4 linked regions of the Homo sapiens genome follow. The protein of the gene in region 2 purifies or fractionates together with the protein of the main gene of each other region. This does not show direct contact. Each region holds a gene or a part of one and is shown on either strand. Other genes may lie near its edges. The genes, in order: SLC7A3, SLC2A5, LMBRD2 and ATP2B2.

The links.
Region 1: the proteins of SLC2A5 (region 2) and SLC7A3 purify together in Homo sapiens (affinity purification with mass spectrometry; 2 studies listed by BioGRID and IntAct, with this or other methods). This does not show direct contact.
Region 3: the proteins of SLC2A5 (region 2) and LMBRD2 purify together in Homo sapiens (affinity purification with mass spectrometry; 3 studies listed by BioGRID and IntAct, with this or other methods). This does not show direct contact.
Region 4: the proteins of SLC2A5 (region 2) and ATP2B2 purify together in Homo sapiens (affinity purification with mass spectrometry; 2 studies listed by BioGRID and IntAct, with this or other methods). This does not show direct contact.

Annotation. Positions count from the first base shown.
Region 1 is NC_000023.11:70,928,089-70,935,624, forward strand, and holds the start of SLC7A3 (cationic amino acid transporter 3), read right to left. Parts: upstream 3,009-7,536; 5' UTR 2,889-3,008; exon of another isoform or gene 1,935-2,888; 5' UTR 1,910-1,934; coding exon 1,540-1,909; intron 915-1,539; coding exon 756-914; intron 546-755; coding exon 368-545; intron 170-367; coding exon 57-169; intron 1-56. UniProt on the Homo sapiens protein: Uniporter that mediates the uptake of cationic L-amino acids such as L-arginine, L-lysine and L-ornithine. The transport is sodium ions- and pH-independent, moderately trans-stimulated and is mediated by passive diffusion.
Region 2 is NC_000001.11:9,038,618-9,045,641, forward strand, and holds part of SLC2A5 (solute carrier family 2, facilitated glucose transporter member 5), read right to left. Parts: intron 3,321-7,024; coding exon 3,168-3,320; coding exon of another isoform or gene 3,004-3,167; exon of another isoform or gene 1,573-3,003; coding exon 1,447-1,572; intron 1,371-1,446; coding exon 1,183-1,370; intron 1,046-1,182; coding exon 935-1,045; intron 313-934; coding exon 211-312; intron 1-210. UniProt on the Homo sapiens protein: Functions as a fructose transporter that has only low activity with other monosaccharides. Can mediate the uptake of 2-deoxyglucose, but with low efficiency. Essential for fructose uptake in the small intestine.
Region 3 is NC_000005.10:36,099,877-36,106,900, forward strand, and holds part of LMBRD2 (G-protein coupled receptor-associated protein LMBRD2), read right to left. Parts: intron 5,322-7,024; coding exon 5,192-5,321; intron 4,231-5,191; coding exon 4,170-4,230; 3' UTR 1-4,169. UniProt on the Homo sapiens protein: Recruited to ligand-activated beta-2 adrenergic receptor/ADRB2, it negatively regulates the adrenergic receptor signaling pathway. May also regulate other G-protein coupled receptors including type-1 angiotensin II receptor/AGTR1.
Region 4 is NC_000003.12:10,334,568-10,341,591, forward strand, and holds part of ATP2B2 (plasma membrane calcium-transporting ATPase 2), read right to left. Parts: intron 6,138-7,024; coding exon 5,926-6,137; intron 5,783-5,925; coding exon 5,675-5,782; intron 3,792-5,674; coding exon 3,609-3,791; intron 1,734-3,608; coding exon of another isoform or gene 1,562-1,733; intron 1-1,561. UniProt on the Homo sapiens protein: ATP-driven Ca(2+) ion pump involved in the maintenance of basal intracellular Ca(2+) levels in specialized cells of cerebellar circuit and vestibular and cochlear systems.

The sequences.
Region 1 (7,536 bases), on a different chromosome or scaffold from region 2:
ACAGCCTGGGCACACACTGTGCCCAAGCCCCAAACAGAATGGAATGACTGTGTTACCAGTGGTAGCAATACAGTCGAAACCAACAAATGCATAGAAACAGGTCGCTGCTCCACGGAGAATTCCCTCGAAGCCGAAAGGCACAAATCCTCCAGAGCCCAGAGGACCCAAGCTAGAGTGGAAGAAGGGTTGGAGAAGGTAAGGGTGTGTTCAGCCAACTCTGTATCTTTTCTCTAATGCCAAACCAGTTAGCTAGGTCTTCAAAGCCCAGCCTCCCATTTTTTCCCATCCCCATCCAGAATCCTTCAGCAGATCCCCTTCTTCCCCTTCATTTTCCCAGCTCTGCAGCTCCTAAGAGTGACCATCTAACCTATAGGTGTCATTGAGTTCAGCCATGGCCAATTCGTAGTCCTCTTCTGTGAGCTTCCAGTTGTGCACGTCCCCCTTAACGAAGCCAGAGATCATGACGAACCCAAGAACCAAAAGGTTCACGCCTGTGAACACTTTGGTAACCAGGGCCGACTCACTAGCCCCGAGAGCCAACAATCCTGTGGGAGAAATGCATTCAGGACTCCCAGAAAGTCTTCAGTCCAAGCTTTGTTTCCCTGCCTCTAGGTTCCTTCCCAGCTTTTCTTCTTCCCCACCATTATCACCTCCCTTAAGCCTTTCTCAGGCCCATCCCCCATCCTTATCCCTGGCCCCAAGGACTAGCCCCTCCTGGCCCAACCCCCACCATTATACCCTGCTCTTTGCCTCACCAGTGAGCAGCAACACGAGGCCCAAAGCAAAGAAATCTGGATATTCTGCAAGGACATGGGGCACGTGCAGTGCAATGGACCCCTGCAGAGTCTTAGAGATGTGGTTCCCAATCAGGTTGTCAAAAGCAGAGCTCCAGGCCCGGGCCACACTGGCTGTACCTGGTGTAGCAGAGAGAGAAACATGTGGCCAAGTTCCCTTCTTCCCAGACCCCAGGCTCACACAAGTCCCTGCCTTTTTCACCTATTCTTACTTTTGTTTTGTTTTGAGACCAAGTCTCACTCTGTCACCCAGGATGGAGTGCAGTGGCACAATCTCCTCTCCCTGCAACCTCTGCCTCCTAGGTTCAAGAGATTCTCCTGCCTCAACCTCCTGAGTAGTTGGGACTACAGGTGTAAGCCACCCTGCGCGGCTAACTTTTGTATTTTTAGTAGAGACAGGGTTTCACCAGGTTGGCCAGGCTGGTCTTGAACTCCTGACCTCAGGTGATCTGTCTGCCTCGGCTTCCCAAAGTGTTGGGATTATAGGCGTGAGCCACTGCACCTGGCCTATTATTACTTTTTAAGAACCAAAACCATTCACTTAATTAAGGAAACCAGGACGGAGATGGATAGAATGAGCAATTTCTCCACACCTTCAACACCCCCCCCCAGACCCCCAGCAAACCCGCACATTTAGGGAGATTGAGGTCCTGTGAATAATATAAAGAATACTTCCACCCAGATTTCCTGACCAAAAACCCCTTTGCTGGCTGTGCAGTTCCCTCCCTCCCCCACCATATCTCACCAATGACATAGGAGAGGATGAGGTTCCAGCCAGTGGTGAAGGCCCAGAGTTCACCCACAGTGACATAGCTGTAGAGATATGCCGAACCAGAACGGGGAACCCGGGCACCAAACTCCGCATAGCACAGCCCAGCCAACACAGAAGACAGGGCAGCCACCAAAAAGCAGATCACAATGGATGGCCCTGCTTTATCTTTGGCCACCTCGCCAGCTAGGACATACACGCCTGCACCCAATGTGCTGCCCACACCCAGGGCCACTAAATCCAGGGTGCTTAGGCATCTGGCAAGGCGAGTCTCAGCCATGCCTGACTCCAGTGTACGTCTGCGTACCAGCTTTTGACCAAATCTGCGAAATGCTTGCCACGGCATCCTAGCAGGAATTGAAGAAGATGATCTGGTGAAAAACAAGACAAAAACCCCTCGACAGGGCTCATTATCCCTAAACTCTGAAAGCGAATTACAAGACCCCCTCCACCAAGCAAAGGAGCTATTGGGAAATGAGGACGGGGATATGGAAGGGACAAAGGCAAGTCACTTTACCTCTAACCTCAGTTTCTTCATAAACAAGTAGGAATTACAATACCTTACAAGGTTTTTGGAAGGGCTAATTTCAGAAATGGCACGTGAAAGCCCCCTGAAGTAGAGTGGCTGGCGCCTAGTAAGTGCTCAATCAATATTAGGTCTCTTTCTCTTGCCAGAAACTGATAGGGTTTATCCTAATCTCAACCCAGGAATCTTGAAACCTAATGTGTCAGTTCCTTGGCCTGTGGCTATTTGGGAATTAAACAGAGCTCCACCCAGGGGCTTCCCCCGGGGCTTCAAACAGACACAGCCCCCAGACCCCCCAGAGGGAGAGGGGACCAACCTCGCTGCAGATTAAAAGTGAGCACCGACTCAATTCCATCCCTCCTCACCAAGCCCACACTGCTCAACTAGCGCAGCTGTCGCCCAGGGGAGTAAGCAAATGTTCCCCTACTTCCTCCCAAGCCCTGCTAGGCTGACCTGCAAGCATCAACAGCGAGGCGGGGCTTCGACATCTAAAGATTTGGAGATGCGCCCCCAGAGGGGCCCCAGGGCAGCCCGAGATTGCTCGCACTCTCCTCTCAGCAGAGAGGAAGGGTTCCACCCGATGCCCCCCGACTCAGGTCCCAGATTTTCCTGCCCCCATCTAGAAATGGTTTGGAGCTGGGGTGGAGACGGGAGCCCTAACTCCCGGGGCGGGGGTCTCGCCAGCAACAGGTCACGGCCCCGTTGATGCAACTGCATGCCATGGTTGCCAGAGAATCCTAGGTACGCCCGGACCCTCGCCGTCCCCCCTCCGACACACGTGTGGGTCCCCAACGCTTACCAGAGAGCTGTTGCAAACCTAGGGAGCACAGAGTCTTGGACTGGGCTCGGTGAGGCGGAGTTAAGCCGAGTTGGGTTGGAGCTGCCGAGTTCGGCCGCTCAGGCTTCAAAGCTGCGGCTTGGGGTCGTTGCGCGCCAAGCGCCCCTTATATACACCAGGAGGCGGAGCCGGTAACGTCATGGGATCCCACCCCCAATCCTCCTCGCTACACACAATACACACACACACACACACACACACACACACACACACACACAACACACACACTTCTTGGCTTTGCAAAAGGATTGCGTGGGGCCTGAGACTGCGTCCCATCCTCACTAGCAAGCCTGGCGTGCCGGGGAGCGAGAAAAGGGGGAGGGCAGTCTTTTCCCATTTGTCTCGCTGGTCGTCAGAACAGGACAATAAGAGGCTTCCTGGCCAAAGAACCCATGAGATTTTCCACCTCTGTGCCCTGTTAGGACCAGTGATTCTGGGCAGGAATGGGGAAGGTAGGTGGGGTGTGATGGGGGGGAGTTGGGTGCGTGTGTGTGTGTGTGTGTGTGTGTGTGTGTGTGTGTGTGTCAGGAGTGAAGCGGAACACAGCAGGGGAGTCTCCACCTCACTCTCAGTCTTTCTTCCTTAGCTTTCTTGTCTACACATCTGACCCTGACCCTTCAGCTCTCACGCTCAGCTGTGGGTGTTTCTAATGCAGGCAGCAGGAGAATGGAAGATGATTTCAAGCCACCTGTATACAGATAATTAATCCAGTCTAAATTGATTTATAGGCCCCAATCTCTCTATAATGTGTCTCCAGCTGCCTATAAATATTAAACTATTAAATGTGAAATTCTGACAATACCAACATCTTGGAGGAGGAAGCTTGTTTAGTTCCATTTTATTGATGTGTAAGCTGAGGCTCAGAGGCATGACTTGTTTGACACCACACCATAATTATTGTTGACCACCTTTGATAAAACCTGGCCTGTTGGACTTCAATGCCTGCCTCCCGTAGGCACCATATCTTATTCAAATGAACAAGAAGAGGGATGTGGCCACAAGGAAAGACAAACAGGGAGAGGCATCAGCAGCAGGGTAGGTCCGTTTAGGCTAGGAGATACTAGGAAACAGAAAAGGACCCGAAGAATCTACGAATGATCACATTGGGTCAGATCCATAATCCATCTGACCCAATCAATTCTTACTCATAAGAAAGCACCAAAGGTTGTGAAAGTGTGGTCCCTGCTCCACCAAGACATCTTGGGGACTAAGGATGGACTCAAATATCCTTGCTTCTTTTAATGATCCATGATGAATATATTACCCATGAATCTAAAATCTAAATCCGTTCTGAAAGAATTGGTATTTTCAACCAGCTGCAGCTCCATTTGGCATTCATTAAGTATTTATTGAGCATTTATTGAGCACTATGTGTAGTAGCTGGTACAGCAATGAAGAGACTATGAAGGAAACATAAAATAAAATCCTTGCCCTCCTAGTCCTAATCTAACTAGGGAAAGAAAACACACACTATACAACTGAAACCTTATTACATAGACGTTAGGAGTGCTGTGTTTGGAATTGCACCTAGGTTAAACTCACAGCTCAGCCACTGTGGATTACCTAACATCCCTGAGCCTCAGTTTCTGGACATAATATACATATTTCACAAGGTTGTTGTGATGCTTAGATGAGATTATGAAGTCAAGTCTTCCTGCCTGGCACATGGAAAGTACTCAAGAAAAACTTGATACATATTTGGAACGATATATTAGTGTATATGATCTGGTTGCTTAGATTAGGTGATTGATTGGATTATGAGATTGATTATTTATCACAGAGATAAAATCCAAATGCCATGAAATCCAGTCTTTTAAAGAGTACAATTCAATAGGATTTAGTATACAGTCACAGAGTTGTGTATCCATCACTACAATCAGTTTTAGAACATTTCATCATTCCAAAAAGAAACCCTGTACCCATTCCCAGACACTCCCCATTTTCTCCCAATCCCCTCACCGTATCCCTAGGCAACCACAAATCAATTTTTTTGCCTCTGTAAATTTGCCTAGATGTTGGTCAAAGGATGTAGAGTTTCAGTTATGCAAGATGACTAAGTTCTGGGGATCTAACGTGCAGCATGGTCATTATAGTTATAACACTGTATTATGCTTGATACAGTTAATAGTATTGTATATTCATGTATATACTTGAAATTTGCTGAGAATAGAGCATAAATGTTCTTATCACATCAAAAAATAGTAATTATGTGAGGTGAGGGATATGTTAATTAGCCTCATTATGATAATCATTTCACTATATTATACATATATAAAAACATCATGTTGTACACTTTTAAAAATATACAATTTTTATTTACAACTATACTTCAATAAAGCCAAAAATAAAATGAATAAATAAAATGTAATTCAGTTGAGGGAAAAAAAGAAAGAAAACCACCATTTTGCACTCACCAAAGTAATAACTGATTCAGGCAAGGATAATCAATAGATGATCCTGGGTGTTGGGAAGCAAAATATTCACATGACCTCAAAATACCACCCAACAGATTATAGTTTAATTATAAAGGGAAAGGTCCTGTATTAGGGTTTTTTGTTTTGTGTTTTTTGTTTGTTTTGTTTTGTTTTTGAGACAGAGTCTCACTCTATCGCCCAGGCTGGTGCAGTGGTGCGATCTTGGCTCACTGCAATCTCTGCCTCCCAGGTTCAAGCGATCCGCCTGCCTCAGCCTCCCGAGCAGCTGGGACTACAGGCATGCGCCACCATGCCCAGCTAATTTTTGTACTTTTAGTAGAGACAGAGTTTCACCATGTTGGCCAGGCTGGCTTCGAACTCCTGACCTTAAGTGATCTGCCCTCCTCAGCCTCCCAAAGTGCTGAGATTACAGGTGTGAGCCACTGCACTGGCCAGTTGGTAACTTTAATTACCTCTGCAAAAGCCCATTTTCCATACAGTGAAACATATTCACTGCTCTAACAAGCACCAAGGGAAAAAGTCACGGGGGCCAATATTCTTCCTACAACAGTAACTTTATAATGGAGAAATCTGGTGGAAAACACCTTAGCTAAGTGATCAAGTTTAGCACCACAAATAATGGGGCAAACTGACATTATATGCCAGCAGATGTGATGCAATGAGAAGTACATATCATCCATGACATATTTTTGCCAAAAACGTTTAACCCTGAAACTAGTTGTGAGGATGTAACCAGAAAAATCCAGATTGTAAGACATTCTATATGACAAAAGACAACTAGCTAGAGTTCTGCAAATGTCTTGAAAGATTTTTTGCCAGGCACGGTGGCTCACACTTGTAATCCCAGCACTTTGGGAGGCTAAGGCGTGTGGATCACCTGAGGTCAGGAGTTCGAGACCAGCCTGACCAACATGGAGAAACCCCATCTCTACTAAAAATACAAAAATTAGCCGGGTGTGATGACGCTTGCCTGTAATCCCAGCTACTCGGGAGGCTGAGGCAGGAGAATCGCTTGAACCTGGGAGGCGGAGGTTGCAGGTGAGCCGAGATCATGCCATTGCACTCCAGCCTGGGCAACAACAGCAAAACTCTGTCTCAAAAAAACCAGAAAAGAAAAAGAAAGATTTTTTTTTTTTAGGTAGGGGGACTGTTCTAAAGGAACTAAAGGAGACTGAGAGTCATGACACTATGAAGTGCATGGTCCCCAGCTGGAACTTGGATTGGAATTCTAAAAAAACATCTATAAAGGAGATGATTGGGACTATAGCAGAAATTTGAATGTGGCCTGTATATTAGCTAATGATACTGTATCAATATTAATTTCTTGTGCATGATAACAATATTGAGGTTATGTAGGAAAGAATGTCCTTGTTCTTAGGAGATATGTGCTAAATATTTAGGGATGAAGTGTAATAAACTTGAAAATGGCTCGGCAAAAATAATGTGTGTGTGCATGTGTGTGGAGAGAGACAGAGCAAATGTGACAAATGTTGAAAAGTGGTGAATCTAGGTGAACAATATGGGTATTGCTTATACTACTCAAATTATCCATATATTTGATTTTCTTTTAATTAAAAGTTGAGGCCAGGCACGGTGGCTTATGCCTGTAATTCCAGCACTTTGGAAGGCCAAGGTGGGTGGATCTCTTGAGCTCAGGAGTTTGAGACCAGCCTGGGCAACATGGCGAAACCCTGTCCCTACTAAAAATACAAAAATTAGCCAGGCATGGTGGTGCGTGCCTGCAGTCCCAGCTACTCGGTAGGCTGAAATGAGAGAATCACTTGAGCCTGGGAGGTCAAGGCTGCAGTAAACTGAGATCACTCCACTGCACTCCATCAACAAAGCAAGACCCTGTCTCAAAAAAGAAAAAGAAATTAAAAGTTTAGAAATGACCACACTTTCCTAGATGATATCCCATTTTTTCTACATAACTCTTAATATATTTTGAATTTCCTTTGATATACAAAATGTGAAATATATATACATATGTAACTTGAATTTTTGCCAAAATACAAATCAGTCAGTCTAACACAATTCATTACTCATTCTTCGACTTTGATGATATGTACTTTATCATGTATTAAATTCTTAAATATACTAGCATATATTTCTAGATTTTCTATTTTTCCATTTGTGACTGAATTTATGCTAGCATGTTAAATTTATTTATTTAT
Region 2 (7,024 bases):
CAGTGCCACCTCGATGAGCCACTGGGAAATCAGCTGAACGTGGGCTATGAGCTGGCAGGACACACGGTCCCCAGATGTCTGGCCAGTTGTATTTGCTAAAACAGCTCATTGTGACCCCTTTTATTTTAAGGCAGGTGGAGGCGCAGGATGGGAGGGGCACTGGTCTTCCTGGTGCAGCTCCGGGCTCCTGGGACCCTGGCCTGTCCTCACCTGCAGTGCCAGAGCTGCAGTGAGCACGCAGCAGGCTATGAGGCAGATGGAGAAGCCCAGCAGCAGCAGCAGCCTCCGACCCAGGAGCTCCACCACGAACACCTACAGGAGGGTGGCAGGGCTCAGGCGGGAGAGGCCCAGCTTCACCTCCCTCCAGCCCCCTCCAATGGGGCAGCTGTGAGGAGAGCTGGGCGGACCGGGTGCCCACCCATGTGCACGCACACTCACATTCACATGTGCAAGACATGCCCTTGGGCAGCCAGCGGGAAGTCGGCTGTGGCTGTGATGCGGGACCCCAGCTGCCCACCCTTGAGACTCAGCTCTAGGGCCTCCTAATCCCACAACCCTGAGCCTCAGGATTCCTGCCCTCGGGAGGCCAGATGTCTGCATGCACCGGAGACGCTGCCCCCACGGAGCCTGCTCCCATCCCGAGGTGGCCGAGCCTCACTCCGGGTAGCCCGGGCTCGGAGCCACCCAGCAGTGGGCGCTGCCTGGTCCAGGCACGCCTACATCCCGGTCAGGTGGTGGCCCCGGGCCCGGTGCGGCTCGGCAGCCCCAAGTGTGAGGGGCTGGTGCGGGGCCACCTCCCACACAGAGTTTCTGTAGTAGCGGCTGGTCCTCCACGTTTTGGGGCCACGGGCTGCCCTTTTGGCGGCGCCGAGGCTGGGGCGTGGGGCCCGAGGGGCCTTGGGTGGAGGCTGTGGGCAGCTCCCAGGACACTCACGGCGCAGAAGGTCATGACCACGTTCACGGCCCCGGTGCCGGCCGTCACGTACTGCACGTGCTCCTCCGGCACGCCGGCGCTCAGGTAGATCTGGTCCGCGTAGTAGTAGATCTGCAAGGCAAGCGCGGGGCTGGGCGGCTGCCCGGAGGAGGCGGCCTCGGCGCCAGGACCCACGCCCGGCGCCCCAGGACCTGCGCCCCGCGCCCCCCGAGCCCTCCCCAGCTCCCGAGCCGCAGCCCGGCCCATACAGCGTTGACGCCCGACAGCTGCTGGCCGCCCATGAGGACGATGATGGACAGCAGCTGCCAGCGCAGCGAGCGCATCCGGAACAGCTTCAGCACGGAGATGAAGCCCGCGGCCTTCTCTGCCTCATCCTCCTGCCGGATCTCGGCCACCTCCCTGTCCACAGAGTCCCAGCCGCGCAGCGTCTGTAGGGCTGGGGAGAAGCGGCACCGTCGGACCAGGGCTGGGGAGCAGAACCTGGAGGCCGCCCCCGCCAGAGCCCTCGTTACCTTTCTTGGCGGCCGCTTCGTCTTTCTTCTGAATCAGCAGGTACCTGGGGCTCTCGGGGAAGAAGGGCAGCAGAAGGAGCTGCAGCGCCGCGGGGACCCCGGTCAGCCCCAGCAGGATCGGCCAGCCTGGGAGGAAGGCAGCGAGCTGGCACCAGCGGCCTCCCCACCACCCCGAAGGCGCCCTCTGCAGAGCCGGCCCCAGCCCCGTCATCCTGAGTGGGGTGCAGGCTCCAGGAGGGCACAGCTTTCCCAGCCCTAAGAACAGCAACTCCCGACGGTGGACACTCGGGAAACACCTGCAGCAGGGATCAGCAGCGACGCACCCCTGCGCCCATCAGACAGACCACACCGACGAGGCCGGTAATACCATGTGCTGGTGAGAACGTCCCCGTGTCCTTCAGAGGACAGTCTTGCAGGGGCTGGAGGAGCTGGGCATACCCGGCCTGACCCAACTGCCCACTCCCAGCTCTATGCCCAGAGAAGCCAGGCCACCAGGATGCCTGAACTGGAATGGTCACGGCAGCTCTGATTACAGAAAGGACACCAGAAACAGTGGGAATATCGTTAACATTCCACATAGAGGGGACACATGGGCTGGCTGCATTGGTACTGCAAAGGCAAAACTAGAGGCAAAGCAAAAAAATGAAGCACAGAGCTTCACAAATGCCTAGAGGGCCGTGTGTGGTTCTGAGTCCTGCTATGGAGCTCCCTGAGACAGGAACCTGGCTTATTCACTTCTGGTCCCAGCTCCTAATGAGAACGCGGCGCCTTGGCGTAAGTGTCCCCAACACATGCAGGAGTGAAGGAGAGGCAGGAGCATGTGGTACTTAAACAGGGACCTAGGTCTGTGCCGCTGGGTCTGCATCCTCATGAGACCTTGGACCAGTCTTCCAATCTCTCTGTACCTGTGATGCACCTGCAAAATGGGTATGATACTGGTACAGGCTTAATAGGGCTGTTCTGAGGAATACATGAGTTACTAAAAAAGACTTGGCACTTGGCTCACGGTAAGCACTTTCTACAGAGAGTGTCTAAGCAGCACAGAGCTTGATGATCCACTTGACTGACTTGCAGACGGTGTGTAGAACCCTGGCGGGAACTGGCTTATGTTTTGGCTGACGGGATGACTGATGATAGTTTAAAGGGAAAGTCGTGCAAAAACAACCCCGGTTACAGGTGTCTGTGCACCTGCCGCATGCCAGGCCCCAGGCTGTCTTGGGGAAGGTGGAGGCAGGGTCTGGGATGTCCTCACCACCTCCCCCATGGGGCCAGGCCACCCTCACTCCTGGTACTTCTCTTTCTGGTCTGCAAAATGGGATAATCACTGAGTCCCAGGCAGCAGCGTTGCTGGGAGGGTCCTATGAACTGATGCTGGGTCCGCCCCAAGCACAGAGCCTGGCACACTGGTGGCTGTCATTGCTATGCCACGGGCCTCCATATGGACAGCTGCTGAGCAGGCAGGGAAGCCCATCACTCAAAGCCACCTCATCCATCTCCTAAGAGGGACTAGATAGTAAACGCTGGCCAGTCCCTTATCGCGCCTTTGTCCATGGCCTGCTATGTTGGCTCGGGACAGGATGGGCCCCCCAAGGACATCCAGCCTGTTAGAAGAGACCAGTCTGCAGAAAGTCCTGTCCTGTGGTGGTGGCTTTGGAACACAAGGAGGGGGCCAAGGGTAGTGGTGAAGGGGTGGGGGTGCTCCCGAGATGTCCTGAACTCACCATCTACGTTTGCAAGGAGATTCCGAAGACCAAAGATCTGGGCCACAAGGATGCCAACAGTGATGAAGAGCTGGGGCACCACCCCGAGAGCCCCCCGCAGGTTTTTAGGGGCCAGCTCCCCTAAGTACATGGGGACCACGTTGGAAGATACACCTGGGAGGAGGTGAAATAGAAACACCATCAGAAAAAATTAGTCTGGCAGGGACAAGCTGTCTTCAAGTATACTATTCTTAGCAATAACATTATTTGGGCCAGAACTCTCTCAAAACTGCAAAGGAGAAAGCAAACACCTCTTTTAATTCTTAGCCCTTTATACTTTAAGGAAAGAGAAACAGATCAAAGGAGCTCATGCACAGGGGCCCTTGCTTTGGCCCATATCATCTGGGGACACTGGCCAGCTGGATCTACGGCCTTCCCGCTCCCTGGCCTGAGTCTAGACCCACTCACGTTTCTGCTTTTTGAGGAGGGTCTGTTTCATAAAAGGCAAGGCAGCTGGGTGTGATGGCTCGTGCCTGTAATTTCAGCACTTGGGGAGGCTAAGTGGGGAGGATAGATTACTTGGGGTCAGGAGTTTGAGACCAGCCTGGGCAACATAGTGGAACCGTTTCCACTAAAAATATGTATATGTGTGTGTGTGTGTGCGCGCGCATGATATATATGGCCTGTGTGTATTTACATATGGTGTGTATGTCTGTGTGTGTATGGCCTCTGTGTGTGTGTGTGTATGTGTATATGGACATGGCCTGGTGTGTGTGTGTGTGTGTATATATATATGGCATGTGTGTGTACATATATATATATATGGCCTCTGTGTGTGTGTGTGTGTGTATGTGTATATATATGTGTGTGTGTGGGTGTGTGTGTGGCCTGGGTGTGTGTGTGTGTGTGTATAGGGCATGTGTATGTGTATGTATATATATGGCATGTGTGTATGTGTGTGTATGTGTGTATGGCCCAGGACCCCTAGCCCCCAGCTTTACCTTATAGGAACAGTAAATAAACCAATGCAGAGATAGTTTCATACACCTTTAAGAACAAGTTATATGTCTCTATAAGCATTTAAAATGTCAACACATATTACGGAATATCTGCATTTCTGGGATTTCTGTAATGCCTGGACTACTTCTGAATCCCCAGTATTTAAACTTGTAAATATTCCCATCATACTTGAATCTGGTGGAGGGAAAACTTACTCTATTTTATAGAATGACGTGTTGCCTGATGTCAATTAAAAAAACATAGGCAGAATTTAATTTTGCAGCTTCCAAAGTATTTTCACATATATTGCCCTATTTAATTCTCCTAAAAGCACATCCAGAGGCTGGGGATGGAGAGGAAGTTTCACTAGTCCAAGTATCAGGTACCAAATCCTGAGTCAAATGGAGGCTCAGGGACGTGGGTCTCTGAAGGGAGGCTCTCAGGAACAGAGTTTGGAGTGAGCAGAGGTTGGAGCTGCTGTTGATGGCGGGGTATTTGATAGAACTGAGATAGGAGGGTACCTGAGGCCATGTTTTCCTGTTTGGCAATTCTACCCACAGATGTCTCTGCTCAGTATTTGAAAAGAGACATCACAGTTCATTAATATCGATTCTTCCTCATTTGCAGAGCAAAGAGGGGCAGTCTTTAAAGCAGCTCTTAGCATGTCTAGGTGGGAAGAGGGAGCAACACCTCACAGGCCCAGGGCAAAGGGCTGCAGAGGAAAGGAAGGCCTCCTGGGAGCTGAAGTGGGAGGCTGTGTCCTCACCACTTAACAAGAGCCACTTAGCAGCAAGAGCATCTTGGTGAAGGATATTAATAAAGGGTCAAACCTCAGGAGGTTTGTGAAGAGATGGGGTTACCTGTACGTTGGTGGAAAGCAATCTCTATTTTTGTCTTTAAAATGACTCCACTAGGACCTCCCAGCCAGCCAGTTCTGATACGAGAATCAGAGCAAAGTGGCTTTTTTTTTTTTTCGAGATGCGAGTTTCGCTCTTGTCGCCCAGGCTGGAGTGCAGTGGTGCGATCTCAGCTCACTGCAACCTCTGCCTCCCAGGTTCAAGTGATTCTCCTGCCTCAGCCTCCTGAGTAGCTGGGATTACAGGCGCCCGCCACCACGCCTGGCTAATTTTTGTATTTTTAGTAGAGACGGGGTTTCACCATGTTGGCAAGGCTGGTCCTGAACTCCCGACCTCAGGTGATCCACCCGCCTCGGCCTCCCAAAGTGCTGGGATTACAGGCATGAGCCACCGTGCCTGGCCTGGCTTTTGAAGTTTAAATTCCTCCTGCTGGACACTGTAGCTCACCCCTGTAATCCCAGCATTTTGGGAGGCTGAGGCAGGTGGATCACTTGAGGCCAGGAGTTCGAGACCAGCCTAGCCAACATGGTGAAACCCCATCTCTATGAAAAATACAAAAAAATTAGCTGGGCACGGTGGCACATGCCTACAGTGCTAGCTACTCAGGAGGCTGAGGCACAAGAATTGCTTGAACTTAGCAGGTGGAGCTTGCAGTGAGCCGAGACCGTGCCACTGCACTCCAGCCTGGGCAACTAAGCAAGAGTCCATCTCAAACAAACAAACAAACAAACAAAAAGTTTAAATTCCTCTGAGCCAATGAATACCTTCAGTCTTCCTGCCAAGAAGTTGATTAGTAACAAATCAGTGAACTGTGAGCATGTTCCAGTAAAAGTCATACTCATCTTGGCACCCCCCTTGTCAAGGTAGTTGTTTACTTCATTTTAGAGTGAGCAATGTGGTTCTTGTTCATATGGGTGGTTTTATTTTTGTGTTGGTTTGTTTGTTTTGTTTTTGAGACAGAGTTTCACTCTGTTGCCCAGGCTGGAGTACAGTGGCACGATCTCGGCTCACTGCAACCTCCCCATCCTGGGTTCAAGCGATTCTCATGCCTCAGCCTCCCTAGTAGCTGGGATTACAGACCTACTCCACCATGCCCAGCTAATTTTTGTATTTTTAGTAGAGACCGAGTTTCACCATGTTGGCCAGGCTGGTCTCGCACTCCTGACCTCAAGTGATCCAACTGCCTCAGCTTCCTAAAGTGCTGGTATTACAGGCATGAGCCACTGCACCCGGCCATATGCGTGGTTTTAAAATGAGTGTCTAAGCAGCACACAGCTTGATGATCCACTTTGCTGACTTGCTGGAGGTATGTGAAAAACTGTTGGCAAATGGATTATGCCCCTAATGGCCAGTGTTCTCAAGCCGTGATCTGAGGACCCAGGGATCCCGAGACCTTTTAAGGGTGTCTGTGAGATCAAAACTATTTTCATAATAATCCAGAGATGATATCTGCTCTTCATTCTCTCTCTCTCATGAGCATATGGGAGTTTTCCAGAGACTTCTTGCCAGGCCACATCACAACTGACCTGACCCAGAAGTACATCTGAGAATTCAGCTGTCTTCTATTAAGCCAGACATTAAAGAGATTTGCAAAAATGTCAAACAAGGCCACTCTTCATGTAATAGGCTTATTTTAAAAAATGAATTAATATGTCTCTCGGTTGCCATTTCTAATACAGTAAATATTGATCAATGTAACCCACATGAGCAAAAGCTCTTTGGAGCCCTCAATAATTTTAAGTGTGTAAAGGGGTCTGAGACCAAAAACTGAGAACTGCTGACTTTAGAGTAAAGGCTGGGATTTTTAACTGATTTGTTATCTATTGGAGCCTAATATTTCTCTGCTGGAAACAATTCTGTATTGTTAATGGTCAATAGAAAAGTGATTGGACCTGCTTACTGGTGGCAACTTTTAGGAATGTATTTTTCAAAATGTTGAGCCCACTGCAGAGAAAACCCACAGGTCAGGGCAAGATGGCAGAGACCGGCCGGGCATGGTGGCTCACGCCTGTAATCCCAGCA
Region 3 (7,024 bases), on a different chromosome or scaffold from region 2:
ATGGCTTGGTACAGAAGGAATCAGAGGCGAGGACATGTTCCTGCTGCAGTGGGAAGTAAGACAGAGCAGGACTACGGCCTGCCCTACTGGAGGAAATTGCTCCTAGGGCCTTGTCTCCAGGAGTTGGGAAAGGGGAAAGAAAACATTGCCCAGTCTTCCAAGTCTCTGGGCAAAAAGTCACTGAGTTGGAAAGAAGTACCTCATACAGATGGGAATTCATATTTTAGAAGGCCTTCTGTAACCTTCTTATATTGTTTCAACGCTCCTAAGAAAAGTTTTGATGATGTATGTTATTAATTCCTTTTCATAAAAAGATGTCTCAAGAATCTAAATAAATCTTAAATTTTGGGGGGGAAATCTATTTTTATGTAAAAATATTACACTGAAAACAATTTATTTACTGATGTGTCCTCTTTAGTGACCTAAAAGATACACTGAGCCAGCATACTTTACATTTGTATTCAGATGTTGCTTAGTTGTCTAGCAAAATCTGTTTGACTACTTTAGGTACAATATTGCTATTTCAAGTAGTGGGATTTGTAGTCAGAACTAGTTCCTTCTGAGCGTACCACTCATCAAAAACAACTCTGTACACAAAACAGAAGGAAAATCTTTCAGCACATTAAAAGTCATGCTATAAACATAGGCCTCAGAAAGGAAGAAAGGTATAAAGGAATGAGAGAGGACATAAGAAAAGAAAGACAAAACCCTAAATCCACTTACTTCTTAACATTTAGAATTCAATACAATCCATTACATTTGATGATTCAAGTACGCTAAGATTTTTCAGGGACATATTTTGTCGCTTAGTGCAAATATACTTGTAATTTTTAGGCATAATCCACTCAAATCACAAGTAAGAAACTCACCTTACTAAACAGGTGAATTATAATATGGAGAGTTTATTTTTTCTCTAATATGGTAATCAGCACACCAGCAAGAACATTCCCTAAACCTATTAATAAGAATGAGGTTTGTAACTGAATGTAAATTAAATTGCTCCATTAATATGCTAAAATATACTTTTAAAAAACCACACACATTGACTTTCCTATGCTAATTTAATTTGGGCATACATGCAGCTTAAATTTCAGAACTGATCATCTAATCAAATAGTAGTCCAAAAAAATCAACTGGCAGAATGTTTTTTTGAATGTCTGGATTGTCAAATTTTCTGATCTATTCTTTATAAAGGGAAAACCCTTGAATCTTTTGATTTAGTTCTTACCATTTCTGTGAAATGAGGGCCTCTTATGCAATGAGATTATTCAAAAGCCCTTGTATTCATTTGGTAAGAGAGCAAATTTTAATAATTAAACTTATTCTTTCTTTTGTTTTTTACAAAAATGCTCTATTGATAACAAGTTATTTATGTTGTAAAAGAAGTTAATTAGTAATTTAGAGGTGATTCATTAAATTAATAGATTATTATTATTTTCTACAATAGTTATTCTGAATTACTGGCTTACTGAATATTCTTACCTAACAACTATTTAAAGAATAATTTGGAAAATTTTAAACTAATACTTATTATCAAGTAATAAAGTCATCAAAAATTACCAGAAATAATTCTTTAAGAAATGTACTTTGCATGTAAAGTATATGTATTTAGTAGTCCTATTTTGCAGTAGATGTCATTATATTTCAATAAGCTTCTCAAAAGAGAAAACTTCTACCCATTACAGTTTTTTACACAGGGTGGCTTGACAAATATTAACTTGGTTCCCCAGCAATAAACTGAGTCTTCCAGGGTCAAGTCATTGCCTTCTGAACTCAAATTTATCCAACAAAATAACATTTTTATATGATTGTATATAACATTCTGTAAGACAAATTCTGCTTAAAGTTGAATATTCTGAATCACTGAAACAACCAAATATTTTAAATATAACTTGAAAGTCATAAAGGAATCTATACCGGTTGTGAAGTGTATGCACGTATACACTTCAATTATTATAACCATAAAAAATTTAATACTAAAGGAAAGTGGTAACATTACCTTACACGTTCCTACCAATTTATCTTAGGGCATTATAAAAGTTAGTTATAAAAGTAATTGGCTAATTTCTTTTCCTTTTCTGCTTCTGTTTCAACAACAGCATCTTAATTTCATGACAAAACCTGATGAGAAACATTATACTTAAGAAATTATTCCAAAGTAAACCCAAAGACTAAATAAAACAACACTACTTTCACAGGACTTTTGATGAATTAGTCCAAAAGCGTTTTTGCTTTAAGTACTTGTAAACTTTTCTGTAATAATAAGAAACTGGACCCATTTCTGGGATGATCATTTCCCCATCCAATACCTTCAAGTATCACTAGGAAAAATAGCACAGTTATAAACTCCAGTACATAAACACCAATTCAACTTCCTCACAATGGCTTTGTAAGGTAGATCAGCAGGTAAATAGCAAGTATCATCTTCATTCTGCAAATGAAAGTGCAGAATGAAGCACTTGAGGCACTGAAGAGCTACATGATTTGCCAAAGGTATTCAATTAGTCAATCATTAAATTACAAAGAGGATCAAATTATCTCTGCTCCTGGCTTATTGCTTTCTGGCCACACTTCACATGAAAAGACTGTATGTGTGTGTTCTTAAGTGTAGTCTATATGACCTTCAATTCAGAGTAAGTCTATCCACTGATAATTATTTTAAAAGGGATCTAATTGCAAAGATCATAAAAACTCAAAGATCAAAATTTTCAGATAATGAGGATGATGCTCTATTCCTTTCAATATCTGCATAGAGCTGTGTTTTAAAAAAAAACTTACATGATAATATTTATTAAAAATAAAAATAAAAATTTTAAATTTATGTCTTGGGGAAAGATTAACTTCAAGTTAGGGGAACCATATAATTCATCTTCAAACTGGGTGGGATACTTGAGGGTGAAAGTAATCACTAGTAATAAACAGGATACTAGGTGTTACACTGAGACTGTATTAGGCAAGCTGAAGTATGGTCACCAAATGTAGCATGGATTCAGTAAGAGTTGCAAATATTCTAGGGACATAAGAAAACTCTCTGCAAGCATGCTGCAATCAAACATGTTCACTTTTCAATAAAACACTAGTGCTTTAAAATATAATACATAAATTTATCTTAAACACAAAGGTTAAAAACAGTCTATTTAGTAAGAATGTTTAACCAACAAGTTATTACACATTTCCATTCTAATATAGTTTTGTTTTCTATAAACCACGATTTAAGTATCAGTAATAACAGTAAATGGATTCACTTTTTACCTTTGAATAACCAGTTTTTTTCTCAAAAAGTATAAGCAGGTACCTTTAAATACTGAAGGATTTTGTTGGACTCTTTGACTACTTAAAAAAAAACTATTTTTCATTAATGCCTAGGATTTATCCTTGAATATCATAATCAACATTTAAATCAATATGTTAAATGATAAATGTGAACATAGCTTTCTGAAATGAAAATCTTTTATAAAGCAATACCAGAAGCATAAAAAAATCCAGTTACTACAAAGACTGAAGGAATACTATATCACCTGATTATAGTACACATGCTAAATACACAGACACGCATCACTTGAAGTATAATCTTAATCTTATACATGCAAAAATCCCCCACGAGTTTGCAAACAGATTTGAAAAAGCACTTTTTACATTCAGTTATGTCTAGTAAGTAAGCCTTGTTTTAAGACACGAGTTTTATGAATACAGTTATTATTTGAGGTCTCCATTCACTTACATTTCTTTGGGAAATACAGGTTGAATATACTTTTTAGAAGTAACAAAAATGTAAGTCACAATAACAAAACTGTATATAATATTATTTAGTATGACTTATGGCTTCCTTGAATCTTTAAAATAACTCTCTTGAAAAAAAATTAATCTGAAACAAACTGAACTGCATGTTCTTAACATATGTTGATCTTTCTTAAAGTCCTTCCACTGTAACTGTATTTCTAAGGCAGATGCTTAGGAAATGATATGTAATAAATCTTGTTGAAAAAGGTGATACTCTATTCAATGCACATTAAACTATTATTCCTAAGATATAATTAATTCTCAGTGCCTTTTTTGTTATCTTGACACTTTTCACTGTGTATAGAGGAAATTCTAGGGTACACAGATGTTCATCAAGACTGAACTGATGTGTTGACCTTGGTTAGTGGTCCCACAAACTTTTTCAGACTTTAAACATCATTAAATATGTCACTGCGAGACATCGAGAGATATCGTCCACCAGGCTGATACCTAAAAAGGGAACATAAAGAAATGATCTGAGGCATCAAAAATAATAAAGGAAGAGAGGAAAACAAGAATACATTAAAAGGGAGTGGCCATATAATTTGTAAGTACTGTAAAATCTAGTCAGTAGCTGAAAGCAGAAACTTACCCTCCAAGTATATTATCCAAAAGGACTTAATTATAAATCAACCAGCAACGGTTTTAGACCCTAGAATATATGCATGACAGAGTGAGAGATGTAAAAAGAAGGGGGCAGGGGATGTAAGACACATCTGGGAGATTAATCAATTCAATAACCACTCTCAATTGTTGCAAATAAATATAACCTAGGTTTTTACTGCATATAGGCAATACTATAGTAAACATTTTCGTGCACATGATATTTTGCTTTTATTTAATTATGTGCTTATAGCATAATGGCTAAAAGTACAGACTCTGTAGCCAGAATACTGGACTTTGAATGCCTGACTTGCCATTTACAAGTTGTGTGACTCTGGGCACTTTACTGAGCCTCTCTGGATTTAAATCCAGCTGAATTTGCAACCATACAATTACAATATTTTTGCTAAAGGACTTAGAATAGTGTCTGGCATCTAGACACTGCTATGCAGCAGTTACTAAATATAATAAATTTCACAAATGGGACAATCAGAAATAGGCATATAAATATTGTTGTGATCCTTTGCTATATATTTCAATTATTCTTTCTTATTTATAATACCACTAGTATTGTATGAAGATAACAATTTTAGTTACCATTACTGGATGATATAAAAGCATTAGAAAGTCTAAAAAGGTATCAAAAGTTACTTAATATATTTTTTATTGTTAGTGAAAATGAACATTTTCCTTTACTTATCACTTGTTTACTTTCACCTTTACTTACTTATTTTCAATCTTGTCAAGTCAATGTGTTATTAAAAGTGTAGAGGAATGCTAGAGCTAAAATGTCACAGCCAGAACTTACCTTCCTGATTCAGATTCAAGAGGATCATCAGTGAATGTTTCTGCATTAAAATCCAAAGGTTCTGCATCTTGGAGAAGTTCTATCCGGTCCCTTTCAGTCCTGTTATTAGCCCTGGTATATTTGAATGCAGCTGCAAAGGAAGGGGGAAAAATGTCTACTTCCCTACTGTCTTTTAACTTATGGGTCACAGTCTATGGAGGTACAGAAAGAAAAATCAAAATTCCAAGGAATCTGAAGACAAAGAACATAAGAAAAGATAACTACATGGTTCCTTAAAATCAGATTAAAATTATAAGCAGTATAATAGAATATAGCAAGGAAAAGTTCTCTAGGCTTGTAGTTAGCTAAGAAGCTCTCTAAGCTCAGAAGCAGACACAGTGCAAACATTTCATTAGTGTAACTCAGAATTAACATTTAACTATGGTATCACAATGGTGAAACTGTTTATTAACAAAAGTAGTTTGAGTTGGTTTTACAGTAAACCTCATTTCTTGGCTAGGACTTTAATGTGTAATCAGCTCAAACTCTTAAAAAAAGGTGTGTCTTTTTACCATAAGGCAAGAGTATGGGTAGCACTAGCCAACATCGGCACTAGCCGATATTTAATTAGAAATTTTCTAGTAGCTATATTAAAAAGTAAAAAGAAACAAGTGAAATTAATTTTAATATATTTAAACACAATATATCCAAAATATTACCATTTCAACATGTTGCAAGTGCTCAATAGCCACGTGTGGCTAATGATTATCATACCAGACAGCAGATAAAGAAAACTAACTCTCCCTTCTCTATGTGGATAGGGATTTCTATATAAACAAACCAAATTTTCACAATGTTGTTCAGAGGAGTCCAAGTAGATTTACAACAGCTTTATGCTATAGTTCTTTCTGAAAACTTAATGCAAGCCAATTCTATCATATTTACATTTTTGTAAGCTTGGACTCTGTCCCAAATGCAAATCTCTTCATCTTTTCTCTCACTCATTCAGCAAATCGCAATTGCCCAATACATGCTAGATTCTCTCTAATTCATCATCCTATGACTTTGTGACTCCTCTTCTTTTAAGCACTCTCCCGTCTTGCCAGGTCTTTCTATTCTGTAAACTTCTTCCACTCTATGGTAAGCAAGCATCCAAATCCCTTTACAGAATCCTATTTCCTAGTTTTAACTAAGCCTTTAGCCCTTTCCTATTTATTATACCCTAAAGTCCTTCAAATAAATCCTTTTCTCTTCATCTCCAGGACAACTGCCTTATTTTAGACCATAATCATTTCTTGACTGTATTACCAAACAGTCTCTGAAATGGTTTCTAGTCTCACTTCCCCAAGAATTATGCTTTATACTGCCATCAAATTCATCTTTCTAAACCAAAAATCTTATCATGCTTCTTCCCAGATTGAAATCTTACCTTTAGGTCAAAATCCCAACTTTTTTTTCTTTCGTTTTTTTTTTTTTTTTTTTTGATGGAGTCTTGCTCTGTTGCCCAGGCTGGAGTGCAGTGACATGATCTCGGCTCACTACAACCTCCTCCTCCTGAGTTCAAGTAATTCTCCCATTTCAGCCTCCTGAGTAGCTGGGATTACAGGTGCATACCACCATGCCCAGCTACTTTTTGTATTTTTAGTAGAGATGGCGTTTCACCATGTTGGCCAGGCTGGTCTCGAACTCCTAACCTTAGGTGATCCACCCACCTCAGCTTCACAGGCATAAGCCACCGCGCCTGGCCCCAAATCCAAACATTGGAGAATGACAATATCTGTTCCCCAACTACTCTGTGGCCTCCTCTCTTATTAGCCTCCCCATGCTTAGGCTTTAGTTAGAGAAAAACATGCA
Region 4 (7,024 bases), on a different chromosome or scaffold from region 2:
AATGTGACTCAGCCACCATCTGCTGAAATGCATCTCCATTTCATCTTGGCTCCCCGGTCCTCCCCAGCACTGCGTTTCTGTGCTGACGAATGAGCACTGAGAGGCTCCTTCCCTGCTTTCTGCTTCTGTCCTGCCGCTATGGGTCGTGGACATTTGCCATCAACAGGCTCCCTGTGGCCCGCGCCTCCTACTGGAGGCACTGAGGGAGGCGCTCCCACCAGCACACCGGGTTACCTGCTTGGCTGCAGGGGTTGTGTTGTGGGTGTTCTGGTTTTGGATGGGGGTAGAGGCCCTTTATAAAGTTTCAAGGGGTGAGCTGGAGTCTACTTCTCATCAAAGAAGCTGGAGGCTAAGACTGACACTATGCCAATTGGAGAAGACCAGAACCAGGGGCTCCCCTGCAGATCAGAAGCGCCTGACTGGAAACATAGCAGGGCGATGGGAGGAAAGACAGACTTGTTCCCTATGGGGCCCGAAGCCATGGGTCCGGGAAAGAGCTAGACAAAGCCAGCAATGAGTGATCTAGATCAGAAGTGGTGGCATGAGGAGATGAGCTTGGCAGGAGGGAGATGAAGGAGGGGCCACAGTCCCAGGCTATCTCTCAGATAAAGGAGGGCAGGATGCTGAAGGGCATATCAGGTCCCTCTGGGCCTGCTGGCACCCAGGCAAGATGTGAGGCTCGACCCACCATTTTCTACCAGGGGTCAAGCTGAATGGGCCAGGGACCTTGTCCTTTCCAGGAAGGGCTTAGAACTTCAGCAAGTTCCAAGCTCAGCCACAGGGAAAGGTGTCTGCAGGGCAGCTGATGCAGTCAAAAGTGCAAGGGGAGGAGTGACAGGAAGCGGGCAGAGACTCTGAACTGCTGGGGTGCAGCGTCTAGGCTGTGAGCTCCTAGGTGGCCTGGGGATCCCTGGCTGACTATGACCTCTGACCTGCAGTGACCTCTTGGCTCAACTGTCCCCCTTGACCATGACCCTCATTACTGTGGGTGCCCCCTGACCAACTGGGAAAGTCTGGTTGACGTGACCCTCTCCTGGGTGGATCCCAATGTGACTGACTGGGACCCTAAGGGGCTTGCTCCCCTTGACCCACAGTGACCCTTCTGCTGACTTTGACTGCAAGACTGGGACCTCTTGTCCAACTCCAACCCTTGCCTTGGTGGTCCAGGCTTTTCCTGACCACATATGACCCTAGGCCAGTGGGACACTCTGTGTCCCCTCCATGTCTGTCCCCCTCTGGCTGCCGGGACCCTGTGGTGGGTTGGGACCATTTGGTCACTGATGTCCTCTTGACCAAGGGTGACCCCTTGACTGAACCAGACTTTTTGGCCACTTGGGACCCTAATGACCCTCTGACTGACCCTGGTCCACTGAGTGACTGCCACCGCATGACTGGCTACGCTCTCCTGACCAACGGGACCCTCTTCGGTGGCTGGGACCCTTCATCCCCCTGGGCCTGATTGTGACCGGCTGCCCCCCATGTCCTCTGGTGCCCCAGCCCCTGCCCGCCTGGGAGCTGGCGTGGGCAGTGCCAGCCGGAGGCAGTAAGGAGTCACACTCACGCCCGGCTGCAGCAGGAGGAAGGCTGGTCGGAGAGGAAAGAGCATTGGACAACGACACGCGACTAGGGCTAGAGAGATTGGCTACATCCTGGCTCTGGCTGGTGACCGAGGACTGTCTCCGCAGGGCCCCCTGAAAGGAGGCCCCGCTCTTGAAAGTATTGACTACTTCAATCTGCAACGGAGGAGAGAACGAGACAAGTTGCGAGAAGAACGAGCACAACGGCTACATGACTGACAGGGCAACGTCACAAGAACAGCCGCAGCCACGGCAACAACGACAATGTCACTTAAATCAAAACAAAAATACCAGACACACTCCAAGGCTCTGAAAAACGTCTGCTCAGCTCTGGGCCCACCTGCAGGCCCCAGGGTCCCCGGGAGGACACAGGGGGTCCGGCCTTTGTCCTGTGCTAGTGGCTCAGGGGCCAGTGGGCTGGCCAGTGGGGGAGGCAGTGATTAAACATGGTATCTGGAGGGAAGAGAGCAGTGTTCAGCCTCCCTCAGGTACAGGCGTGGAGGTAGAGGGTGTGGTGGGGGTCCTGAGGTGGACAGAGCTTGGCCTAAATTCCAGCTCTGTCACTTACTAGCTAGCTGACCTTGGGCAAGCCACCTCTCTGAGTCGAGTTTCTTGTTCTTAAGAAGGGTCAATGCCACCTGCCTGGCAGGGTTATCTGTAAGTGGCAAAGCACCTGACCCGTGTTAGCATTCCGCAAGAGGCAGGCAAGACAGGCGCCCCTGCCCACTCAAGAAATCGCAGTCCTTGCTTCCTCCCGTAATCTGGAGACCCCTGCGTGGCTTTGCCGCCAGGGCAGTGACAGCACCAGGGACATATTCACTGAGTTGTCCTGGACCTCCCAGGAGGTGGGGGCAGGCTGGGAGGGGTGGCTGCGGGGCCCTAACCAGGGAGGGTGAGCCCAGGCCCGTGTCAGGCACCTCCGGGTCTGAAACCGGCTTCCAGTCCCCACCCCAGCTGTGCCAGCTCAGTAGAAGGGGCCATCTCCTGGACCTTGGTAACCTCTAAAACTGGGGGAGTCACATCTACCTCCCAGGGCTGTGAAGGTCACATGAGGTGAGGTTTGGGACAGGGTACAGAGGGGTGGGAGGTGACCCAGGTGAGCTCTCTGCTACATCGGATGGAAATGAGGTGCTGGGCCACAGCTGGCAGGATGGTGGCCAGGTGGCTGCTTCTACACTGCACTTCGCCCAAGCATGCTGGGGCATGGAGGAGCTCCCACTCCAGCTCCCCAGATGGTCTGGGCAAGAGACCCACAGAGTCCCTTCTGACCCTCCCCTCGCAGGGCTGTGACAGCACTTGTGAGCTACAACACCTGCTCCAGGCATAAGGGGACCATGTGAGAGCATGTGGTATGTGTGTGGGGGGGTCGGGGGAGGCGCGCAGGTGTGTCGTGTGCCACGTGGCAGCCATGCTCTCTCTGCTCTGGGGAAGAAACCTGCTTCTGGCTGGCTACGCCCTGCACCTGTGCTCCCCTGGTGTGCTTGGTGTGTGCATGTGTGTCTGTGTGTGCTTGAGGATGACTGACCTTTGCTCCCCAGAGCCTCTCCACCCCCTAGGGGAAGCTGGGGAGAGCAACTGAAGCCCCCGTGGAGGCGGCGGACCCCCTGACCACCACGCCCTGGGGGACCCTGGGCGACCTGGCCTGCAGCTTCTGTCCAGCCTCACACGGCCCCTGTGGGTGGGTGCCCCCAGCCCTGAGCGACAGTCCCCTCACTCACCTCTGCCCTCAGAGCCACCCTTCCCCACCCTCTCAGGGAAATCCCCCTGGAGACCATGGTGGGTGTGACCCCTACCACTTCCCCGTGCTGCCCTGAGAGGGCACAATGGGACCTCTCTGAGGAGGCCGTGCTGTTCCTTAGCAGCCACAGGAGTGGGTGTGCAAGTGGCTGGTGAGAGCTGGCCGGGACCCCTCTGTAGCCACCCTCCCTCAGCACCAGAGCTGGGCCCTGGGGGGCAGCACAAGCACACTCACCTCCATCCCCTGGCCCGCCCCGGCCAGGCCTGGGCCCAGCCCCCAAGAGCCTCCTGTACCTGTGTCTGGATCCGATTCAGGCCTCGGAACCACAGGATCTGGCCCCGCCGCAGCTCCCGCTCCGCGTGGTCGATCTCCTCCACGTCCTCGTTGAGCTCCTCCTCCGGGATCTCCTCCTTCTGTGTGAGCCTGCCTGCCTCCTTGAGGAACTTGAGTCTGCTGGTCGGGATGGTGGCGATGACCTGCAAGGGACCCTGTCTGTCAGGACGGTGGGGCTGTCCTTCCCAGTGGCCTTCTCTCCCTGACACCCGCTCCTCTACCTCCCTCCTCCTACCCGCTCACCCAGGCATGTGATCAATCTACTCCTTCACCCACCTCACCTGTTCCTCAGCCCAGTCTTTGACAATGTCTTTTTTTTTTTTTTTTTTTTTTTTGAGATGGAGTTTCACTCTTGTTGCCCAGGCTGGAGTGCAATTTGCTTTTTAATTCATTCATTCAGAGTCAGGGTACATAGTGGACAATCTTGGCCTCTAGGAGTTGGACAGATGTGGCTTTGAATACCCCAGACAACCCTGGTCCTGTGGCCTCGGGCAAGTCATTTAACCTCACCGAGCTTTGGTTTTCCTAGCTGTAAAGTGGGGGCCGCTCTGGGCATGGTGAGAACTGGGCACGGTGGAGGGTCTAACTCGTCCTGCATGAGCCTGGCCCGTGGCTGGCCCTCGGTTCTCCTGGGGTTACTTATTCCTCTGTCCCTTATTCCTCCTGAGGTCACTGGACCCTGAAGGCAGCCAATCCTGGACTGGGAAGGCAGAATGGGAAAGAGCTATGCCTTCATTCCTAATCTTCCCCAAAAGGCTTGTCCATGGGGCTGAGGACCCAGACGCAGGCCCTACAGGAAAGCTGCGGTGGCAGATATCAGAGGCCCCTTCCATTTCCTGTAGGAGCAGTCAGGCGCTGGCATGAATGCAGCCTCAGGGGGCTCCCTGGGAGTGTAAAGTCAGCACTGCCCGCTGGCATTAACCTTTGTCCTCTGAATCCTTCCCTCAGTTACTGGGCCCAGCCCCCAAGAGCCTCCTGTAGGGGGTGGGCCCCAGTGGGATAAAGATGGCCTGGCCCCCAGGGTGCCCAGGGGTTTATCACTCTCCAAAGCAGCCCCAAAGGTTACAGGAAGTCCTTTTGGATGAAACTAAACTTTCTTATTTATCTTTTAGTTAATTTTTGCCCCCGTAGCTTCTCACTCTAGCCTGCAGACAGCTTGAAGGCAAGAAAAATGCCTCCCACCCATGGGGTCCCACTGCCTGGATGTGTGAGCACCTTGGGAATCAGGCCCCTTAGGCCCTGAGTTGGTTCTGGGCCCTCCTCCCAAGCCCTGTGTCCTGGGTCAGGAGCCTTTGGGCTGCATGCTCTCAGAGCTGTGACAGGGTCTGGAACTTGGGCAAACGTAGAAAAACGAATTGGTGGGAGAATATTCTGGGACAAAGCTGGAAGGGCCCCTAAAGAGCATCCAGCCCAAGGAGCCCCAGAGCTGGGGCAGGCACAGCACTGAGGCCACAGATGGCCACAGGCACAGCACTGAGTAACACCGCAATGTGGCAGAGTGTGTCCTGCTTGCGTTCCCTCTGAGTGCTCTAAAGGATCCTGATTGACGCCAGCCGGCCACCAGCGCCCGCAGACCACTGATTCATCTCCCTTCCTAACAAGCTGCTCCAGCCTTGAATCCCTGGCAGGCCATGGCTTCTAGCTGGAGTTTAATAATGTCATTCTCATTACATTAATGTTTTTGTTAGCTTCCATTTATGACAAGTGATACTGATTTTTCAGTTGTCTTAGTAACAGGACGTTGCCTTTAAAAACAAATTTAAGTTAAAAAAGCTGACGTGATTGAGAGAAAATATTACATAAACAACAGGAGCAGTGGTAGATAGATATAAGGCAAAAATCAGAGCAGTAGTACCCAGACGACCAGTATAGGACCTGGGACAAACCCCCTTGCTCAGATGTCCAGAGATAGGGAGGAGCTTGCCTGGGGTCTGGCAGCCCATTCCTGGGGGTCCTGGATTCTCCATCCAGTGCTGTCTCCCTTGCCCTGCTAACAGGCACCTCCTGCGACCTACCAGGAACTTACCTGGCCCCAAACGAGCTCTCCTAACCCAATGAATATGCACCACATCCACTGGTCCAGCTGCAGTGGAGAGCAGCTGAATGGCTTCCCTCCAAACTGCACGATCACTATCTGGAGGTCACAGGGGAGCAGAGAAAGAGAGAGAGAGAGGCCATCAGGGACCAGCACAGAGGGCTGGGCTCTCAGGGTCCTGCCCAGGGGCTCCAGCCGCTTGCTGCCCACCCCGGGCCTGGTTAGGGTGGGGGCCTCACTACCTGGATGGCAAAGGTGCCCAGCACGATGGTGCAGAAGATGGGGTTCCGGAAGATGCCGTCAAAGACATTGCGCTCGCCGTGGATCTTGCGGGCGTTGATCTCGTTGAAGAGCTGCATCATGACGAAGGTGTTGAAGATGATGGTGTAATGTTCTGAGGGTGGCGAATGCAGGGGCGCGTTCCTCCCGCTGTCGATCTGGAACATCTTCTCGCCTGCCAAGTGAGAGAGTGGGGCTGGGCTGAAGGCAGTGGTGGGGGAATCAGAGGGGAGATGCCTGGCCTTTCGTGGGGGCCTCTTCTGAGCAGTGACGTGAATCCCCAAGACATCAAGGCATGCTTGGACAGTGGGGGGCCAGGGCTGTGCTGTCAGCTGGTCAGAGACTAGGACTGAAGGGTCAGCAAAGCCCTTTCTCCTCTGGGGAAGAAAGGCCTTGGGCAACTGTCTTCCACTTTTTCTGTGGAAACCCGATAAAGGTGGACGGCCGGCTGTGTTAAAGGTGGGCGACATGGCTTCTAAAAAGTGACCTCAGACTGGAAAACTCATTCTGGACTGCGAGGACAGGATACCTGCGGGAGGTTTTGCGCTGCCCCGAGAGTGCTGCTTCTTGTTCCTGAGCATGTCCCTTGCTGAGACCTCTACAAGCTCATGGGGCTGTTACTAGAGATGCCAATTCCTATATGGAGCCCAGGACTTCTGGGCTAGGCTGGCTCTGGACCCTCCCATGTGGCTTCATTCTAACACCTGAGCTGTCACATGGCAGGGCACTGCTGTGTAGACGCTGCTGATAGGGTGTCTGATGCAGTCCTGTATCCTTTTTGTTTTGTTTTGTTTTGTTTTTGAGATGGAGTCTCGTTGTTGCCCAGGCTGGAGGACAGTGGCGTGATCTCAGCTCACTGCAACACCCGCCTCCTGGGTTCAAGTGATTCTCCTGCTTTAGCCTCTCAAGTAGCTGGGATTACAGGTGCGCACCATCACGCCCGGCTAATTTTTGTATTTTTAGTAGAGATGGGGTTTCTCCATGTTGGCCATGCTGGTCTCGAATTCCTGACCTCAAGTGATCCACCCGCCTCGGCCTCCCAAAGTGCTGGGATTACAGGCA